Linked DNA regions of Homo sapiens. The protein of the gene in region 2 interacts with the protein of the main gene of each other region in a pairwise test. Each region holds a gene or a part of one and is shown on either strand. Other genes may lie near its edges.

The links. Proteins that work in one complex are often made in the same cells at the same time.
Region 1: the proteins of SPATS1 (region 2) and TOR1AIP1 interact in binary tests that used the Homo sapiens proteins (3 or more experiments, as listed by UniProt).

The regions. Positions count from the first base shown.
Region 1 is NC_000001.11:179,905,684-179,913,833, reverse strand, and holds part of TOR1AIP1 (torsin-1A-interacting protein 1), read right to left. Parts: intron 6,012-8,150; coding exon 5,970-6,011; intron 5,230-5,969; coding exon 5,161-5,229; intron 1-5,160. UniProt on the Homo sapiens protein: Required for nuclear membrane integrity. Induces TOR1A and TOR1B ATPase activity and is required for their location on the nuclear membrane. Binds to A- and B-type lamins. Possible role in membrane attachment and assembly of the nuclear lamina.
Region 2 is NC_000006.12:44,344,791-44,352,940, reverse strand, and holds part of SPATS1 (spermatogenesis-associated serine-rich protein 1), read right to left. Parts: intron 216-8,150; coding exon 68-215; intron 1-67.

The DNA.
Region 1 (8,150 bases), on a different chromosome or scaffold from region 2:
GAGCTCCTTGAAACACATGACCTATTTCTTTCATAGCTTTTCACAGCATATGGTGGGGTCTAGTACAAAGCACACAATAATTAGTTTTGAGAGAAAGTTTGGAAGTATTTGACCCATTAAGTATCTAATGGGATTGGTGAAACTTCCGGGATAAAAAGGACAAAGAAACTAAGCACACCATAATAAAATGAAACATATTATACCATCTGAAAAACTGCCATATATTGAACTCTTGCCTGGTGAAGATGCTGTAAAGAGGGGGAAAATAAGGACAAAATGTGGATTACAGACTACTGAGCTGTCTGGATAAGGTGTTTTAATATAAAAATCTTAATCCTCACTATTTTCTACCTCAAACTGATTCAGTATTTCCTCTGGGGATTCTGACCATTTCAAATACTAGTAGTATTTTAAAATCACATTTAAAAACTTCTCATCATTTCTGTTAATAGACAAGTAATAAAGTAATTCTGTTTTAGGCTTGTGGTTAAACAATAGAGCTCAAAAATAATTTTCTCTCAACTCTGTCAAATTTCTACTTTCATCTAAATCTATTTAGAAAATAAATTAAGCCGGGCACAGTGGTTCATGCCTGTAATTCCGACAAATCAAGAGGCTGAGGTGACAGGACAGCTTGAGCACAGGAGTTTAAGGCCAGCCTGGGCAACATTGTGAGACCCCATCTCTAAAAAAAAAAAAAAAAATTAAAAACAAGAAAAGAAATTAAAAATGATCCTAACCCTTCCCTTTCCCTTCCATCTTTCTTAGCATACCAGCAGGTTTTAAAATCTAAGAGAGGAAATGGAAGGACAGGCTTCAGAAGGTGGAGAGGCTGAGTTATCTCATTTGTATGACCTATATTACCAGTATTGCCGTCTATCACTTGCCTGGAGTTTTATAACTTTTGTATATATAAATGAACTTCCTGGTGGATCTTCTTAGCGTTATATCAACAACTTTCATTTGAGAAACACTGGAATAACTGGAGGAATAATATTAGCCCTGCTAAGATTCAGAAATAGCCTTATTTTTGATCATATGACAAAAAACTCCATAATGATGTAGTAAGACAAAATGACAGCAACTGTAAGAGGAATACTGTTTTTCAATTACTAGTTTAGCTTAGGATATTTCATTATTTAGAAGCTTCTAAGTTAGGTTATCGAAGTTACAACTAAAATAACAATAAAAATACCTAACCACATGAAACCCAAATCCATCAGATAATGTTTATTTTGAATACTTCACTCCATGGTTGCAAAGATCAAATGAGATAATATATACAAAAATGCTGTGAAGTGCAATTCTATGATGTTAATGATGAAGGACAGCTAAATAATAATTATGTACCATATATAATATTTATATAATTCATATAACACAAACACATACACAGCAGGGTATATACTGCCAAGGCAGGACATTGTCCAAAGTATAACTGCTATCCTTTTTATCAACATTACTAGAGATGCTAACAACAATTCTAAAAAACATCTTTTTAAAAGAAAAAACTCAGCTGGGCGCAGTGGCTCAAGCCTGTAATCCCAACACTTTGGGAGGTCGAGGTGGGTGGATCACCTGAGGTCAGGAGTTTGAGACCAGCCTGGCCAACATGGTGAAACCCTGTCTCTACTAAAATACAAAAATTAGCTGGGTGTATTGGTGCACCACCAGCTACTTGGGAAGCTGAGGCATGAATGAGAATCGCTTGAACCCAGGAGGCAGAGGTTGCAGTGAGCTGAGATCACGCCACTGCACTCCAGCCTAGGCAACAGAGCAAGACCGTTTCAAAAAAAAGAAAAAAGAAAAAAGAAAAAAAAAAGAAAAAAAAGAAAAAAGAAAAAAAAAAAGAAAAAAAGAAAAAGAAAAAACTCAAGCTTTTCTAGTCTAAAGAGTATGGTGATAATCAATCACTCTACAACCATCAAGAGTAGAGGGCACAAATCCTCCATAGTTGCTATTGATTCTACAGAAAACATTAACAATAAATAAGCCCTGATAATTATGAGATTTTAGACTTTAAAAAATTGTGTTTACACATATAAGCTCATTACAATAATCTAGTTATAGGCACTACTGTCTCTAAAGGCAAGAAAATTGAGGTTCACAAAGGTTAAGTGATTTTACCAAGATTACTCAATTAGTAAGTGGAAGAGCTAGGACTGGAGCTCAAGAGCTTTAACTCCAAATTGTCTTCTTTTCTCTATCTAAATTTCTGAGACAGGTTCCAAAACATTTATATTAGTTCTCTGACCTCTCCATGCACATATATTCTTCTCTATAATCATTGTTTTATCACCTGGCAAACAGGAAAAAGTAAAGACAGTGGTTCCATCTTTCCTAAAAGGTTTGGATGCAGGCAGAAGCCTGAACTGGGACCTGTCTACAGGAAACTGTTGCTAACGTCGGGTGACAATGTTCCATGGGGTAGAATCTATAGCCTAAGGTTCTTGAACACTCAGCTCTAAAAATGACTTTTTTTTCCTCACCAAAGCGGGCAGAAATATATAGTTAAAGAATGAGAGATAAAATGTGGAATGCTAGGAAAACATTTTTTTAATATTCTTGAAGAGGAATCTATTATATAACAGTGTTTGAAAAATCACTGTAGTCTTCCACTTCCATTGAAAATATTTTCTTCTTGCTCATCGTTCTATCTTAAAGTCCTCATGTGGTTGAAAGTCTAAAAGATCCTATTACATGCACACTTCTGGTGTGTTACTGTTACATAACTCTGAAAGCTCAATGTGGTTATCTATATATGGTAGGTGGTTAGCAACCAATGTATAATTCTGTAAGCCATAATAAACATAGTAACTTAAGACAAAGTAGAAATGCAAACAGATAAAATACTAAAAATTAGCTATCAATTTAGCAACTAAAAAGATCTATTTCTGCATTTCTATTAGATGTTCAATATAATTATGTTTCCTTCTCTATTGCAGTGTCTTATTAGAGGAAAAAATTATGCAAAGATTTTCTGATAAGTATGTACTAACTTCACTTATCTGGAAGTCATTTATCTGATATTAATTACTCAGAATGTACAGTTAAGAACTAAGAAATGACACAAGATGCCTCTGAGCTTTTCACATTATATACACTAAAACTCATGCATTTTTACATCCAAGAGTATCTCTTGGGTCTTCAAATTTAATTTTAATGTTTGATCCTGGTTATAAACATAATTCTAATAAGCTGAATAATTAATGTTTGGTTTCCTAACTATAATAGGTCAGGAAGAGCAAATTATAAGAGGAAATGGTTTTCTAATAGCAGGCACATAATCACAGCAATAAGAAATGACAACCAACAGTAAGACAAGGGCAAAAAGTTATTTCGGTTCTAGACTGCTTAAGAACTCACTTACATGTGGGCTAAAAACGTCACTGCTGAGAAAAAATGAATTATGACCACTCCTACTTTACTGATGGAAAAGCAGAGCCACGCATGTCATTTGGTCCAATTACAGTTAATCATCCCATGAGCAAGAGATATAAGATGTGGATTTTTACATTACCTAAATAAAAGTAAGAGAATACCTGATGACCTCAAGACCTATTGTGGTTAGATGAGTAAAGTAGGGAGGTTAAAGGTCACTTAAGGCAGAGAATATGCATGGACTTTAAAAAAATATGGTCGAGATTTAACGTGGACGCATTTCCATAGAAATTATAGAAAGTGAGTTCAAAGTACGATGGTTTTATCACATCAATTTATAGTATTCCTTAAATTCTGTGACATTTAATCCATCCAAAACCTAAACATGAGGCTGGGTGTGGTGGCTCATGCCTGTAATCCCAACACTTTGGGAGGCTGAAGCAGGCGGATCACTTGAGGTCAGCAGTTCAAGACCAACCTGGCCAACATGGCGAAACCCCGTCTCTACTAAAAGTACAAATATTAGCTGGGCATGGTGGCGCATGCATGCAAGTCCCAGCTACTTAGGAGGCTAAGGCACAAGAATGACCTGAATGTGGGAGGCGGAGGCTGCAGTGAGCTGAGATTGTGCCACTGCACTCCAACCTGGGCGACAGAGGGAGACTTCATCTCAAAAAAAACCCAAAACAAAACAAAACACCCCCAAAAACCCAGAAAGGCTGGGCGCAGTGGCTCAAGCCTGTAATCCCAGCATTCAGGGAGGCCAAGGCAGGCAGATCATGAGGTCAGGAGTTCAAGACCAGCCTGACCAATATGGTGAAACCCTGTCTCTACTAAAAATATAAAAATTAGCCAGGCGTGTAACAATACAAAAATTAGCTGGGTGTGGTGGTACGCGCCTGTAGTCCTGGCTACTTGGGAGGCTGAGGCAGGAGAATTGCTTGAACCCGGGAGGCAGAGGTTGCAGTGAACTGAGGTTGCACCACTGTACTCCAGCCTGGGCAACACAGCAAGACTCCATCTCAAAAACAAAACAAAACAAAACAAAACAAAACAAAACAAAACAAAAAACAGAAAAAAAACCCTAAACATGAAAATATAACTTGTGCATTTCAGCCTTTATTATGTAAAATTATGAGTATACAAAGCTGTTCCAAAATCTGCTAAAAGCAAAAAATAAGTATTGTCAAAAGAGTAGAATTTCATTATTGTATACAGACTGTATTGCTGCTATAACTGACAGCTTGTTAAAATCCATCAATCTCTGGTTTTCTCTTTTTTTTTCTTTTTTTCAGATGGAGTCTCGCTCTGTCGCCCAGGCTGGAGTGCAGTGGTGCAATCTTGGCTCACTGCAAGCTCCGCCTCCTGGGTTCACACCATTCTCCTGCTTCAGCCTCCCGAGTAGCCTCCCGCCGCCACGCCCAGCTAATTTTTCTTTTTTAAATATTTTTAGTAGAGACGAGGTTTCACCGTGTTAGCCAGGATGGTCTCGATCTCCTGACCTCGTGATCCACCCACCTCGGCCTCCCAAAGTGCTGGGATTACAGGCGTGAGCCACCGCACCTGGCCAATCTCTGGTTTTCTCACGCCACTATTTACATTCTACACCCAGCCCATGTGCTGCCAGTCCAAGAAATTACTAAACTAGTAATCATAGCTGTACTTTATTAGTGAAATCACAAACAACCTAAATGTTTATCTGAAGAACTAAATATTTTTGTCAAGAAAAACATAGCAAATACACAAGATTATTTCAATAACAGAGATTTATCTACTTACTTTGCATCCTGGTCCTTATTCTTGCAGTTTGTGGGGCCCATTCCTGGGGAGTTTTTTGATATCCTGAGCCTGAAGCAAATACATATATCAAAAGATAATTTCCCATACTTTGAAAGTTTATACCATATTCCAGTGTTATAAAATTAATCTATCAGAAAGACAAAATAAAGTAGGGGAAGAAAACAATAAAAGCAATAGTTTTATAAGTAAAAGATAATTTCAAAGGATCGTATCAGTGAGGATGAACCACTTCCTACAGCAAAGCAGGTAGCAAATAAATATATTATCACATAATACAAATTACTTGTGGTAAAATAGCCCTGAACACATTTCCATATCACAGAGTAATTATTATAGGTAGTACCAATCCGTGGTGAATTAAAAAGGTAAAGAGGGGTAAAATGACTTAAAATCTTATTACAACTTTTGTTGGGAGAATAAGGCAAGGTTAGAATTGATTGACTGAGGCTGGGTGCGGTGGCTCACACCTGTAATTCCAGCACTTTGGGAGGCCGAGGCAGGTGGATCATGAGGTCAGGAGATCAAGACCATCCTGGCTAACACAGTGAAACACCGTCTCTACTAAAAATACAAAAAATTAGCCGGGCGTGGTGGCGGGCGCCTGTAGTCCCAGCTACTTGGGAGGCGGAGGCAGGAGAATCGCGTGAACCCAGGAGGTGGAGCTTGCAATGAGCCCAGATTGCACTCCAGCCTGGGCGACAGAGCAAGACATCGTCTCAAAAAAAAAAAAAAAAAAAAAGAGAAAAGAATTGATTGGCTGAAAAAAGAGCAGACAACCAACTACTTACTTAGCACTGAAGGTTGCTTATCATGAGCTGTGAAGTTTTGACCTGAAACAGAAAACAGGGATAAGGTCATAGAATACTTGAAAATAACAACAAAAAAGATGTTGCACAGACATTTTGCTTGTTTACTGTGGATACTAAAAACAAACAACAGACAAAAAACATTCTCTCATCAATTCCAAGCATATAAATATATAAAGTATATATATATAAAAAACATACATATACTATATATATACATATATATACATATATATATATATATATATATATAAAGTGTGTGTGTATTTCTTTCCCCCTCATTTCTAAACTTCAAAATGTTTAGGAATTGGGCAACAATAAGGAGTTAGTTTAGGATCAGTACCATCAAAATAAAAACTACATATAGTCATATATATCAAGTATAATTTTGTTTAATTCTTTTTTTTTTTTTTTTTTTGAGACAGGGTCTGACTCTGTCACCCAGGCTGGAATGCAGTGGCACAATCTCAGCTCACTGCAACCTCCGCTTCCCAGGTTCAAGATATTCTCCTGCCTCACCTTCCCAAGTACTTGGGATTACAGGTGTGCACCACCATGCCTGACCAAATTTTTTGTCTTTTTAGTAGAGACAGGGTTTCCCCATGTTGGCCAGGCTGGTCTCAAACTCCTGACCAGGGTTTCACCATGTTGGCCAGGCTGGTCTCAAATTCCTGACCTCAAATGCTCTGCCTGCCTCGCCCTCCCAAAGTGCTGGGATTACAGGCATGAGCCACCATGCCCAGCCAATTTTGCTTAATTCTTATGTGGTAGATGCTATTACTGTTCGTATTTTATAAATAAGGGAAAATCAGCTGGATGCGGTGGCTCATGCCTGTAATCCTAGCACTTTGGGAGGCCAAGGCAGGTGGATCATGAGGTCAGGAGATCGAGACCATCCTGGCTAACACGGTGAAACCCCGTCTCTACTAAATATATAAAAAATTAGCCAGGCGTGGTGGTGGGCGCCTGTAGTCCCAGCTACTCGGGAGGCTGAGGCAGAAGAAGGGCGTGAACCTGGGAGGCGGAGCTTGCAGTGAGCTGAGATCACACCACTGCACTCCTGCCTGGGCGACAGAGCGAGACTCTGTCTCAAAAAAAAAAAAGGGGGGGGGGGAACCAAAATTGGTAATTTTTCCAAAATTATATATCTAAAAGTAGTTGGGCTGAGATACAAATCCAGGCAGTCCATATCATATACCACATACCATACCATAAAGAAATGGTATGTACTATCTATGCAGATTTATGGACATTGCAAAGTAGCTATGAAGTAAAACATGCTACTTCAGGTTTTGAGGTGGTATTTAAGGATAACTGTAAAATGACACAATGGGATGACTAAAAAATGACATTACAATTATAACAAGGTAAATTTTCAAATCTGCCCTGAGAAAATGAGTTACTCTTTGATGATAAATACAAGTATCGATTTACATTTATTTATTTTCAACTTTTTCTGAATACAAACATGTGCTAGCTGTTTAAAAAAAGGGGCCATTCTAGAAATGCTTAATTTAAAAATTCATGAATATCTATCTGTTAAGTATCTACTATGTGCAAAACATTGAACATAGAAATATTATGGTAAATAAGACAGATATTCTCTCAGCTTTGTTTTCAGCCTATACTAAAAATATACTTTTAAAAAAGTGGATACATACGTTTTAATATTTTCATCAAATTCTAAGACATACTTTTTAAAAAATGCCCTTTGATCTACAGATATATCTTTTAATTAATGGTATGGCATAGTTTAACTGGATGGTTTTTCTTTCTCATTGATACATAAAATCAATAGTATCTTAAAGTCAATGAAATATATCTTGATCAACTTTTCATTAGGATACAATGAACTAACTCATTTTTCATTTCTAAATAGTATTTCTTTTTTTTTGAGATGGAGTCTTGCCCTGTCACCCAGGCTGGAGTGCAGTGGTGCAATCCCAGTTCACTGCCGCCGTTGCCTGTTGGGTTCAAGCGATTCTCCTGCCTCAGCCTCCCAAGTAGCTGGGATTACAGGCACCTATCACCATACGTGGTTAATTTTTGTATTTTTAGCAGAGACGGGGTTTCACCATGTTGGCCAGGCTGGTCTCAAACTCCTGGCCTCAAGTGATCCACCTGCCTTGGCCTCCCACAGTGCTGGGATTACAGGTGTGAGCC
Region 2 (8,150 bases):
TCAGACTATTGGCTTCTTGGTCAGAATCTCCCCAACCGTGACAGCTCTGCACCAGACCCTTACTTACTCTACGTAAGCAGACACTCTGGGGAGGCCAGGAGGCTCACTGACACTTGGGCCTGTTTCCACAGAAGATGAGGAACTGACACTTTTGCCAGAGGGTGTTGTGTTGGCAAAACATCCCTTAGATTCCAGAAAATCACTGCAATTAGCACCTGTAACACAGAGATATCACCATTTAATTACATTATTGAAAATACATTCCACCCTATTTTGTTTCCTAGATTATAAATAAATTTTTAAAACAGCTAACATTTATTGAACATTTACTGTGCACTGAGGATTATGTCAACACCTTTACACATATTATTCCATTTATCCCTATAACAACCCACAGGCTTAGGTATTCCTTATTATCCCCATTTTATGGTTGAGAAAACTGAGGCTGAGAAGGCTAAGAAACTTGCCTATGATTGCATAAAAAGTAAACATCTAGGCCCGGCGTGGTGGCTCATGCCTGTAATCTCAGCACTTTGGGAGGCCAAGGTGGGTGGATCAGATAAGATCCACCCTGACTTGAGGTCAGGAGTTCGAGACCAACCTGGCCAACATGGTGAAACCCCGTCTCTACAAAAAACAAAAACTAGCTGGTCATGGTGGCACACTCTTGTAATCCCAGCTATTTGGGAGGCTGAGGTGGGAGGCTTGCTTGAACCCAGGAGGCAGAGGTTGCAGTGAGCCGAGATCACATGACTGCACTCCAGCCTGGGCAACAGAGACTCTGTCTCAGAAAAACAAAAAAGAAAAAAGAAAACATCTAGGCCCATATTTGATTACAGCTCTTGTGACACTAAAGCCTGAGATTCTAAGCCCTGTACTAGACTGCTTGCCCCTACATATAGTTCACCTACTCTGAACTAAGTGGAAGACCTAGGATCTGAAGTGAGCTATATAGCACTGTACATTGTATTAAGCATCTCAATATAATTTTCCAAAGGATTTGTTTATAAAAAGACTGATGAATATAATGCTGATCACAACCCAAAGAATGCCCTCAGAAACTTCTGTGGGTTCCCCTCACAGTTCTTATTCATCTTAGTAGAATCCATAACAGTGCCTGGCACAAAGCAGGTGCTCAATAAATGTTTGAGTGAATAAATGAAAAAGAATTATAACTCCCCAACCACCCACAGTTACAAGTAAGGGAGTCCTGAAAACCAGTGAGTGTCAGACATAGAAGAATATCCATTATCTTCACTCTGCTATACTATTAATACTTCATGAAAGCCAATTTGTTCTGTTATCATCTCATACAGTTATGTACCTCATCCAGCCACAAAAATAAAAAGTCCGATGAAAAGATTATGCATATTTCTTTATGCATAATTTCGTAGAGCACTAAAGCTCAATAGATGGCAATGTAACCTCTGGTTATGAGAAAATTGTAAGAAATAAGAGTCAAACTCTGATTCTTGAGTACATTTTTAGACTGACTACTATTCCACCTACACAGTATCATGCTTCACACATATAGAGTCATCTTTTGGTATCGACGGGGGATTGGTTCCAGGACCCCCGCAATACAAAAATTACAAAAATCCAAAGATGCTCAAATCGTTTATATGAAACAGTGTAGTATTCGAATATAACATATGCACATCCTCCTGTATGCTGTACTGTAAATCATCTCTAGATTACTTGTAATACCTAATACAATGCAAATGCTATGTAAATAGTTGTTATATACTTATTTGTATTATTTTTGTTGTTATATTGTTGTTTTCTTTTCTTTTTTCTTTTTTTTTTTTTTTTTTTTTTGACACAGAGTCTCACTCTGTCACCCAGGCTGGAGTTCAGTGGTGTGATCTCAGCTCACTGCCACCTCCGCCTCTGGGTTCAGGTGATTCTCCTGCCTCAGCCTCATGAGTAGCTGGTATTACAGGCACTCGCCACCATGCCTGGCTAATTTTTGTATTTTTAGTAGAGACAAGGTTTCACCATGTTGGCCAGGCTGGTCTCAAACTCCTGGCCTCAAGCAATCCACCTGCCTCAGCCTCCTAAAGTGTTGGGATTACAGGTGTAAGCCACGACACCCAGACTTGTTGTTTCCTTTTTGAATATTTACTATGGGCAGTTGGTCGAATCTGCCAATGCAGAACCCGTTGATATGACTGTATAGTGTAAACTATGCAAATTCCCACCATCTATCAGCAGGACTGCTACTCAGAGAATTTTTTATTCATTTCCTCTCAAATTCATATCACAAGTGAATAATACCTTTTCCATTCTTATCAAGTCCCGATCTATCACCAAACCTTTCACTCCTAAGAGGACTTTGCCTGTTACTCTACAAAGCTTAAAGTTCAGCTGAGCTACTCCCTCCCTTCAAAATCCTCCCACTCTGGGGCTTCTCAGGACATGGCGCAAGGCCTATCTGCATCAGAATTACCCAGGAAGCCTGTTAAAAATACAGATTCTCAAATTCCATCGCAGACCTATTGAATTAGAATCTCTCCAAGTGAGGCCTGGGAACCTGCATTTTAAATAAGCCCCCACCCTCACCCCTGCTCTTCATTTAGGCTCACGTTTGGCAGTAATCTCCTTCTTGAAGTCTAGTTCCATCACTGCACTGTATTTTATCCAGTTCCACTTCCAGATTCCCAACTGCACAGAACTTCCTGAATTTGCCCAGTCACGAGAATCCCCTTGGGGTACTTGTTCAATATGCAGGCCCCAGGGCTCTGACTCAGACCTACAGTCTGGGAGCCAGGATATTTAAGAAGCACCTCAGGTGATTCTTAGGGTCAGCCAAGTGTGGGAAGTGCTGCTCTGGAATATGCCCTAGAGCCTAGAGCAGCCCCCAGCACAGTGAGGTCCAACTGGTTGCTTGAGGTGTAACTGGGATGGAGTCAAGCCCAGGGGAGGTGGCAGGCAAGCAGCAGGTGAGGATGAGGAGACGGGTCCCCAGTAACCAAAGGAAGAACCACCCATATACCAAGCCACAAAACAAGTATCAACAATACATAGACCACACTCTCTGACCACAATGCAATACAATTAGAAATCAATAATAAAAAGACAGCCAAAAAGTATCCATAAGCTTGGAAACTCAAACCACACTTCTAAATAATTCACATACAAGAAGAAATTGTAATGGAAATCATGAGTTGCTTAATGATCAATGAACATTGAGTACTATATATCAAAACTTGTGGGATTCAACTAAAGCAGTAATTAGAAATCTGGGGCCTTGAATGCATATGCTGTATTTCACTGAATATAAGGCACCATCAATTGTAATAGCATCGTTATTTTATGTATCACAAAGAACAAAGGCTGCCAATTAAAGTATGATACATGCTTTTATCACTTAGAATTTTTATTTTATACTTATTGATGCATTCTTTTAATTTATTTATAGATTTTAATCACATATCACTCATGCACATATATAAAGAAGGAAAATATAAGCACAATAGACTGGTTAAGGCATTCCTAAATCTTATGCACATTCAGAAATCTGACTACTAAACCACTTTCAACTCAATCACTATTGTCCACACTTTCCACCTAATACTGACCTAATATTTCAATAAAAATGTGAGTTGAGTGATGCAGCATTTCTTTCTTTTTTTTTTTTTTTTTTTTTTTTGAGCCAGAGTCGCCCAGGCTGGAGTGCAATGGCATAATCTCGGCTCACTGCAACCTCCAACTCCAGGGTTCAAGCAATTCTCCTGCCTCAGCCTCCCGAGTAGCTGGGATTACAGGTGCATGCCACCACACCCAGCTTATTTATTTATTCATTTCTTGGAGACAGAGTCTCGCTCTGTCCCCCCGGCTGGAGTGCAGTAGTGCAATCTCAGCTCACTGCAACCTCCGCCTCTTGGGTTCAAGCGATTCTCCTGTCTCAGCCTCCCGAGTAGCTGGGATTACAGGTGCCCACCATCATGCCTGGCTAATTTTTGTATTTTTAGTAGAGACGGGGTTTCACCATGTTGGCCAAGCTGGTCTCAAACGCCACACCTCAGGTCACCCACCCATCTCAGCCTCCCAAAGTGCTGGGATTACAGGCGCAGTGGCGCCAGGACCAATTTTTGTATTTTTAGTAGAGATGAGGTTTCAACATATTGGCCAGGCTGGTCTCTTAGCCAGGCTGGTCTCGAACTCCTGACCTCATGATCTGCCTGCCTTGGCCTCCCAAAGTGCTGGTATTACAGGCGTGAGCCACCGCGCAAAAGTGCTTCTCTACTGTCTCTGGAGTTTTTTCCAAGCTATGAACACACGTTCTACATGCTTCAGTGCTCATACAGCAAAAATTATTACAACTACATCCTACCTGCTGCTGGGCCCACAGACCTGGTAACATCCAGTCCCTACTTCAAAGATGCAAACTGTCTATCCAAGAATTGATGGATTATAGTGTTCAAAATCAAAAATTCCAAAATGAATGAGCCAAGTTGTCAATTTAAGAAATAAGAAAAAAAAAAGAGTAACCCCTCTCCCCCCGAAAAGATTTTAAGGAATAAAATCATAAAAGCAGAAATGAATGAAATAAAGATTATCAGAACTATGGCTTCATGCAAAAGCTGATAATGCAGATAAACAAGGTTCAAGAAAAAATTTTAAACACAAATAAATAATATTAGAGCCTGGACTGTAATCCCAGCACTTTGGGAGGCCAAGGCAGGTGGATCACCTGAGGTCAGGAGTTCAAGACTGCCTGGCCCAACATGGTGAAACTCCGTCTCTACCAAAAATACAAAAATCAGCCGGGCATGGTGGTGCACGCCTGTAATCCCCGTTACTCAGGAGGCTGAGGCAGGAGAATCGCTTGATCCCAGGAGGCGGGGGTTACAGTGACCTGAGATCATGCCACACTGCACTACAGCCTGAGCAACAGAGTGAGACTCCATCCCAAAAAAAAAACAAAAATAATAATAATAATAGAAATGAAACAAGGCCATAATTATAAATAAAATAGAGATAAATTTACAGATAAAGAAATTAAGCTCCAGAAATGTCAAATAACTTGTTCAGGGTTACATAGCCATGGAGTATAATTTATAAAATGTAGTCTAATGTTCAAATAATCAAGACAGTACTGACAAAAACCCTAACAGACAAATCAATAGAACAAAATAGTAAACATAAATAGAATAAAATTGTATATGAAAACAAGTGGCATTTTATCTTGGTGAAGAAAGGATGGGTTATTCAAAAAATATTGCTGGAACAACTAATTAACCATTTGGAATAAAAATAAAATTAATCCTTTCTTATCCCAAACTGGAAAATCCAGATGACTCACAGATTTGAATGTAAAAATTGAAATTAAAGATGTACCCGAAAAAAGTAAGTGAAAGTTTATATAATCTTAGAGTGAAGAAGTTATTGCCAAGAAGATACCAAATACAGGCAAAATAAAGGAAAAGAGGCATAGATTTGAATATGCCTCTTTAAATATAAACTTAAAACTTTCATAGCAAACTATAAACTGGGGGAAAATCTATAACAACATGATAGAAAGAAAAAAGAGTGAGTAGTCATGACAAATTATGAGCTTTTTTTTTATACTTTAAGTTCTGAGGTACATGTGTAAAACGTACAGGTTTGTTACATAGTTATACACATGCCACGGTAGTTTGCTGCACCCATCAACCCGTCGTCTACATTAGGTATTTCTCCTAATGCTATCCTTCTCCCCTCCCCCAACCCCACGACAGGCCCCAGTGTGTGATATTCCCCTCCCTGTGTCCATGTGTTCTCATTGTTCAACTCCCACTTATAAGTAAGAACATGCAGTGTTTGGTTTTCCATTTTTGCGTTAGTTTGGTGAGAATGAGGGTTTCCAGCTTCATCTATGTCCCTGCAAAGGACATGAACTCATCCTTTTTTATGGCTGCATAGTATTCCATGGTGTATATGTGCCACGTTTTCTCTATCCAGTCTATCATTGATGGACATTTGGGTTGGTTCCAAGTCTTTGCTATGTGAACAGTGCCGCAATAAACATACGTGTACATGTGTCTTTACAGTAGAATGATTTATAATCCTTTGGGTACATACCCAGTAATGGGATTGCTGGGTCAAATGGTATTTCTAGTTCTAGATCCTTGAGGAATTGCCACACTGTCTTCCACAATGGTTGAACTAATTTACACTCCTTGAGCTTTTATAAATTTATAAGATGAAAATAAATATCCAAAAAGAAAAAAAAAGGGCAAAAGATGTGATCAGGTAACTTATTTTTAAAAACAGGCTGGACAAGGTGGCTTATGCCTGCAATCTCAGCACTTCGGGAGGCTGCGGCAGGTAGACTGCTTGAAGCTAGGAGTTCAAGACCAGCCTAGGCAACATATGGAGACCTGGTCTCTACAAAAAACTAAAAAGTTAGCTGGGCGTGGTGTTGCACACCTGTGGTCCCAGCTACTTGAGAGGCTGACATGAGGACTGCTTGAGCTGGAGAGGTCGAGTCTGCAGTGAGCCCTGATCATACCACTGCACTCCAACCTGGGTGACAGAGTGAGACCCCATCTCAGAATAAGATAAAATAAAATAACACATACATATAGCCAATATGTATTTGGGGGAAATTTCATCCATCCTAATAATTGGGTTTGGGGGAGTGGGTGGTTATTTTGTGGGTTTGTTTTTTTTTTTGAGACAGGGTCTTGTTCTGTCACCCAGGCTGGAGTGATCTCGGTTCACTGCAACCTCTGCCCCTAGGACTCAAGTGATGCTCCCACCCCAGCCTCCCAAGTAGCTGGGACCATGGGCACACACCAGCATGTCCAGCTATTTTTTTGTTGTTGTTGTATTTTTTGTAGAGATGGGGTCTCACCATGTTGCCCAGGCTGCTCTCAAACTCCTGAGCTCAAGTGATCCACCCACCTCAAAAGTGCTGGGATTACAGGCATGAGACACTGTACGTGGCCCCATCCAAATAATTGAAGAACCGAATTTAAAATGAGATGCCATTATTTGTTATCCGTTTGCAAACACCCAGGTGTTTGGCACAGCTTGGAGGAATGGCATTCCTATCATTGCTGGTGGGAATGTCCCCATCTTACTGAAGAGCAATTTGGCCATATGTGACTTCCGAAGCCTATGAGAAGTGCATGTCATTTGACTCAATAGTTCTACATCTAGAAATGTATCTATGAAAAAGCCATGAAATGCATGTTTGGAGATGTAGAATGGATTCACATATGTGAATGAAATGAAATCAAGGCCAAAGATGTCCTCTATGTCAATAATTGCATGTGAGTTCTGAGGTATTTACAGTAAGATTTACTTATGGTAATTTTTGGCCATAGGTTTTAACAGTGGCTGCCTTTCATAGCATGTAAACATTTTAGTTGTATATTGCCACTATAGGACTTGAGAGTTCACCCAAGCAAGAATTGGTTGGCTCTATGGATGGTATCAGAGAGGGTCCTTTCCCAAGCTTTTTGTTTGTGTTAGGAACAAAATGTAAATGTACTGCATTTCCCTAAGCAGCGAGCAGTGAAACACACCTAAAACTTTAGCACACTTCCTTGCTTGCTTGAAAAGTTTTGTGGCAGCAGCACTCTAGAAAGTGGCCTGTGGCCACTATAATGGGGAAAGCTTGTCTGATGGACAAGGATGGGAAGAGCAATCTCTTGCTAAACTGGCAAACAGCACACTCTCTAGATCAAGCTGACTACGGCATCTTCCTGAGAGTAACTCAACCTCAAACTTGAGCTGGAGACACTTAAACATGTTCTCAAGATGCCTCCCCGCCCCTCCCCTGGTAAAAGAAGATTAGCTGGAAGAGAAGCTGGAATTGCAAGCCTGAACACTTACTAATACTGACGCTAATACTAATACTGATGCTCCCACTGCATAGAGTACCATCCAGCTACTCTGAGCAAGTCAATTACTTCTCCACGCCCAGCTCCCAGTGGCTGCCCTCTCCCCCATCTAGCTCAGAAGGCTGTGGGGAGACAAACACACTAAGGAGATACACCCTGCTTGAAAGTTTCACCATTTATCATGAAAATTGTTATTCAAGCGCAATAAATGTCAAGTAAGCCAGAAGTCAGAAAATTCTAACAAGTTTCTAAAACACTGCAAAATTAAGAAGAAATGATGTAATTAAAGGCCAAGAGAAGGTTCTGGTAACCAGA